Regions from separate parts of the Homo sapiens genome. Here region 1 is linked to region 2. The links come from fine-mapping of genetic effects on gene expression. A gene starts in region 2. The other region holds a variant in brackets. All regions are shown on one strand. Distances are from middle to middle. Region 1 overlaps MZF1 (myeloid zinc finger 1). Region 2 holds the start of ZBTB45 (zinc finger and BTB domain containing 45).

Region 1 (2,905 bases), 49 kb before region 2:
ACAGGGGCACAAACCTCAGCCCATCTCATCCCACTGCAGCTCAACCCCTGGCCTTCCAGGGTACTCTGCTTCACCCAGCCCCTGAGCTGGGCCCTCAGCTACCCTGCACTGCCCTCCCCAACCCAAGCCCACAACCAAGAATCCCACCTCTCTGCATCCCAGCACCTGGCACACCACTAAGAAGGGCAGTGGGGTGGAAACTCACTCAGGCTGCCTGATACCAGTTTTCCTCTCTAGATTTCCTGGAGTCTGGGCCTCTAGCTGCCACCCAGGAGTCTGTACCCACCCTCCTGCCTGAGGAGGCCCAGGTAAGTCCTGCCCAGGTCCATGTTCTCCTCCTTTCCCTGGAAGTTGCTGGGTGGGGTCAGGTAGGTCCCTCCCTGAGCCCAGCCAGGCACAGAGGAGCAGTGACCACTGTGATTTCAGAGATGTGGGACCGTGCTGGACCAGATCTTTCCCCACAGCAAGACTGGGCCTGAGGGTCCCTCATGGAGGGAGCACCCCAGGGCCCTGTGGCATGAGGAAGCTGGGGGCATCTTCTCCCCAGGTAAGTGAGATGGGGTGTGGTGGGACTAGGCCTTCCGCATGGACAGCACCATCTCTGCCGACCCCACTCCTGGCCCTACGCAGGCAGCCCTCTTACTCCAGCATCCCCAAGTTCCCCCATTCCCTAGATCATCCCCTATAAGGTTCAACCTCCTCTAGCATCTTCTGCCCTCAAAAAAAGCCACCCACCACTACCACTGATCCCACAGCCCCTCTACTTTCTAGAAACTCCCCACCCTAGTAAAACCTTTTGCAAGCAGGGCGAGTATTCCCCGTACCCACATTCTCTCCCAGTCCTGGTATCCTGGATGGCCTCCTGGGCTTGCATCCTGCTGGTCAGGCATCAGGACAGGTAGGGCTGGGACCTGACAAGGACAGCAGGTTAGTAGACAGAGCAGGTGGGCAGGAGGGACCTTGACACAGGATAGGGATCCTGCCCAATCATCGAAGCATTACGGACCAGAGGCCCCCTGCCATCTACCTCTCAGCCACCACCTTTGTCTGGCATCATCCAGGCTCCTCCTACAACCCATCTTCTGTTATGTTCCTTCCTGTTCCTGAGACCCAGGGTCTCCTCTTTCTTAGTTCACACCTTTGTTTTGGTGGAGCTTTGTGGGTGTTCTGGTGTGGAAGATAAAATTCTGACATGTCCCATATCTGAAACACATTGTCTAGCCCTCAACATTAGATTGAAGTTTGGCTGGAAGAATT[C/T]TTTTTATTAGTACAGTCACAGACCTTTTTTTATCACTATTGTTGGTGAGCTTTTTCAGTTTGAAATTCACATCTCTCAGTTCTGGGAAACTGCCTTGAAATTTTTTTTTATTTCCTTCCCTTCTATTGCTCTGCTCCCTGTTTCTGGGATGCCTCTTACTTGGCTATTGGCATCTGGGATGGGTCCTTTAATGTTCTTATCTTTTCACTCCAATTTTCCATTCCTTTGTCTTTCTACTCTATTTTCCTGGAAATTTTCTCACTTGTATCTTTCAGACCTTCTGTTAAGATTTTCATTTCTGGTAGCTTTTTTTTTGGTGGGGGGAGGGGGTCTCACTATTTCACACAGACTAGAGCACAGTGGTGCCATCATAGCTTACTGTAACCTTGAACTCCTGGGCTCAAGTGATCCTCTCGCCTCAGCCTCCCAAGTATCTGGGACTGCAGGCATGTGTCACTGTACCTGACTCATTTTTAATTTTTTTATTTTTTTGTAGAAACAGGTTCTCACTATGTTGCCAGGGCTGGTCTTAAATTCCTGGCTTCAAGTGATGCTCCCACCTCAGCCTCCCAGAGTGCTGGGATTACAGGCATGAGCTACTTCATCTGGTCTCTTGTAGCATATTTTTACTTTCCAAGAGTGTTTTTATTCTCTGAATGTTCATCTTTTTAGCTGTCTCCTGTTGTTCTTTCATTTACAATGTCTTTCCTTATTTCTCTGAGAACAGCAGTAACTTTTTAAAAAAAAACAGTGTGTTCTCTATTCTCTCCTAGTTGTTGGCTTATATGCAAGAGAGGGGCACCACAAATCTGGCTGACAGCTCTGAGCAGGTAGATGTGGGGCTTACTGGCTGGAAGGGACATAGGGGAACCCCACTCCCCAAGGAGACCCTTTTCTTAGGGTATGTGAGCAAGCAGCTTGAGTATGAGTGGATGCTGCAAACAGATCCATAGGGCAATGTGGCTAGGCCATTTTGGGGGCACTCTTCCTCCAAGCATGTTTCGTTCCATCGTCTGAATCCTGCAAGAAGGTAACTTCAGCCTCCTGCCAGCATCCTTGGGAAAGAGATTAACATCTCAGCATCCAATGGGACTGTTTACCTAATAACCCTGACTTTCTCAGTACGGTTTCTCACCCTTAACATAGCCTTCTGCCAGGATGGGAGAAGAAATCCAGAAGTAAGTCATGGCAGTGCATACTGTTGGCTCAGAATTCTGTGCAGACAGAGCCCACAGCAGCAGCCCTGCCCAGCATCTGCTTCTGAAACAGCCTCTCCAGCCTGGCTGGTGCCCTGCTCATTCACTTGCATGGCCAGAAGTACCAGGTACCTCCAACTCCTGAGTTTTTAGAATCTTCTTAGCCAGGCGCAGCCGCTCATGCCTGTAATCCCAGCACTTTGGGAGGCGGAGGCAGGTGGATTGTTTGAGTCCAAGAGTTCGAGACCATCCTGGGCAACATGGCAAAACCCTGTCTCTACTAAAAAATAATACAAAAAACTAGCTGGGCATGGTGGCACGTACTTGTAGTCCCAGCTACTTGGGAGGCTGAGGTGGGAGAATCACCCAAGCCAGGGAAGTCAAGGCTGCAGTGAGCTGAGATGGTGCCAGTGCACACCAGTCTGGGCAATGGGGGTGAGACCCAGTCTCA
Region 2 (2,905 bases):
TAGCCAGGATGGTCTCGATCTCCTGACCTCATGATCCGCCCGCCTCGGCCTCCCACAGTGCTGGGATTACAGGCGTGAGCCACCGCGCCCGGCCTTTTTTTTTTTTTTTTTTTTTTTTTTTTTTTGAGACGGAGTCTCGTTCTGTCGCCCAGGCTGGAGTGCAGTGGCGCGATCTCAGCTCACTTCAAGCTCCGCCTCCCGGGTTCATGCCAGTCTCCTGCCTCAGTCTCCCGAGTAGCTGGGACTACAGGCGCCTGCCACCACGCCCAGCTAATTTTCTGTATTTTTAGTAGAGATGGGGTTTCACTGTGTTAGTCAGGATGGTCTCGATCTCCTGACGTGATCCACCCGCCTTGGCCTCCCAAAGTGCTGGGATTACAGGCATGAGCCACTGCGCCGGGCCATGAGGTCTGTTTTCTTGCTGGCTGTTGTTGCAGCTCTTCTCAGATTCTCAGCATGACACCTGTCCTGTTGCATTTCCTCTCATGGACCTCTCTACCTTCAAAGCCTCTGGAACCCTTCTCCTACTTCAAGTTTCTCCACCTTCCTCTTCTGCCTTTAAGGACCCTTATGATACCTTGGACCTACCAAAATAATCCAGAATCATATCCTATTTTAAGATCAGCTAATGAGTAACCTTAATTATTTCCGCAAAAACCCTTTCACCATGTAGTGTAACTATTCATAGGTGAGATAATCATATTTACAGGTTCTGGGGATTTGGGCACGGAAATCTCGGAGGGGGCCATTTTCGGAATTCTGTCCCCCATACCAGATTGACTTGCAATGTCCCAGAATCTCACAGGGTCTAGCTCAGGGGAGGCCCAGAGCAGGGTGAGGCAGTTGTCTATTCCTGTCTGCGTTGTAGTAGAAGGTGCCAAGGCCGAGATGGGGTCCTTTCCCCAGTCCCACCCACAGCGGGCGGGCCTGGAGCGTCTGCAGTAGTGGTAGCTTGCTTGCACCTCCTGGCGGCCAGGGACCGAGACCTACTTCAGCTCTCACCCGTGTCACAGGAATAAGGCCACTTCCCCGGTTCGCAGTGGGGTTTAAACTGGCCAGAACACGTTGGGCACTTGGGCCGGGAACTGCCTTCCCATTCTGCATCACAGGGAGCTTGCGGATTGATCGCGCAGGCCCGCCACACCCCTGATCTCCTGGGCGACGCCGGAAGAGTGCTCTGGTCCAGACATTCCTCGCGACGCGGCAGCCCTAGCCTCTTCGACTTTGGTTCCGACTAAGAGGAGAGCCGGAGTGCAGACTGGCGGGAGCTGATCGCCATAAAAATACCGGAAACGTGCTTCGGCCTAGGGTTTCCCCTGCGCCGCCGCGACCGCAGGCCTCCGTTCCGCCGGGGTAACGGCCCGGAAGTGCGGCCTTGTAGTCGGTCAGGAGGAAGCGGCCACGGCAGAGCCTGGTGCCTGAAGAGGAGTCGGAGGTGGGGTCGAATGGGCATCCCCCTGCCGCAGGGCGGGCGAGGAGGCTGGGGCGTGCCAGGGGAGGGGCACCTGCGCTCCGCTAGAAGCGCACGCTGAGAACGCGAGGGGGCGCTGCAGGACCGGGGTACGGCGGGGGCCAGAGTGCGGGGTGGCAGCGGCGGGTCAGAGGGGTGCTTTGGGCGTAGGGTGGGGCGCGGGCAATGGAGCAGAGTATGGGAGAACGCGCTCGGAGTAAAGCACACGGCGCGGCGAAGGCGTGGCGGGAGTGTGCGGCGCCGGACCCGGGAAGCTGGCCTGGGCGCCGGGTCTCGAGTGCAGGCCTTTGTTCTGAAGTGTCCAGGCCGGCCTTGCGGCGTCGGGACTGAGGAATGGAGCCCGTCGCGGGGCGGGGCGGGAAAGGAAGGTTCAAGTCTCTCGGGTTGATGCGCAAGTTTCCGTCCCCATCGGCCGGACAGATTAGAATCCTTTCAGGTGCTAGGTGAATACAGATGGGGCGGTGCTGCTTGCTGAGTTAGCCTTTGCGCGGGCACAGGCCTGGCTTTTTTGAGGCATTGCACAGAAGGCTCAGAACAGGGCCAGGGAGCGGGGTGGTGTATCCGGATCCGTAGTCTGGAAAAGCTCCCTCTGGCTGCCGTGTGGGGAACAGAAGGGGAGGCGAGGGGCGCAGAGACACCAGCCAGGTTTCTTCATCCGTCCAGGACAGCGGGAACGGGGCAGTGGAGGTGCTCGAAGTGGTCTGAGGGTCAAATGTGGGGCATGCAAAAAAGGGAGGCGTCTGGCTGAGCAAAGGGACGGCGGATTGGGCATAAGGAGTCGGAGGGGTTGAATCTTGAGACCCCAGTAGAGCCCGAGGGTGTAGGGGCAGCATCAAGCCGAGCCCACCCTGGGGCTTTGTGACTCCAAGGGAGAGACAGGCTGGTGGAGCCTATACGGATGTCAGAGTCCAGAGCTCCTACCCTCCTCCCTTAGACTGGAGGTGTGTGCAGTCTGGGTGCGGGATGAGCCGAGTATCTCATCCCTTGTTTGATAGAAGGGGAAACAGGCCGAAGGATCACGGTTTACCTGCTTGATGGATGGAGTAGCAGAACTCCTCAGATTCCAGAGTCCTCTGAGGACTACCCCCTCCCCTTTCTGGTGCCTGATGTTGGGCCGTGTCCCCGATTACTCCATGGGCAGCTATCCAGTCACACACCCCTGCTCAATCCACACTTCCCCTCTCTGTGCCACACCCACACCCTGGGCCCCACAGGCCCCATCGAGATGGCAAGAAGCTGGGGCTGCAGGAGCCACCTCCCTGCTCGCTATGCTAGGGGCTGCCAGGGAGCATGTACTGGTTTCCCTGGGGCATCTCCCAAGGTACTGCCCAACCTTTTACCCTCAGCCCTTAGTGACTAGGCACACCCAGAACCACCCTGCCCAGGAAGCAGGTCATGCCACCCCACTCCTGCGAGAGCCTCTGTATATACTAG

What was found. PIP is the estimated chance that this variant, and not a neighbour inherited with it, causes the effect. A credible set is the group of variants that fine-mapping cannot tell apart.
Region 1: its variant is the best candidate, but not a certain one, in a credible set for the expression of ZBTB45 in whole blood (TOPMed, PIP 0.53).

The regions. Positions count from the first base shown.
Region 1 is chr19:58,566,919-58,569,823 of GRCh38, reverse strand. MZF1 (myeloid zinc finger 1) reads left to right here. Exons shown (of 6, transcript NM_198055.2): 4 at 238-308; 5 at 427-547. MZF1-AS1 (MZF1 antisense RNA 1) reads right to left here. Exons shown (of 6, transcript NR_027334.2): 2 at 829-911. Among named protein-coding and RNA genes, the nearest start is that of MZF1, 5.0 kb to the left of the region's middle. The variant C/T (reference allele first, on the strand shown) is at 1,258.
Region 2 is chr19:58,518,272-58,521,176 of GRCh38, reverse strand. It overlaps ZBTB45 (zinc finger and BTB domain containing 45), which reads left to right and starts at 1,367. Exons shown (of 3, transcript NM_001316979.2): 1 at 1,367-1,435. RefSeq lists enhancers at 1,083-1,402, 2,460-2,905 and a silencer at 1,493-1,592.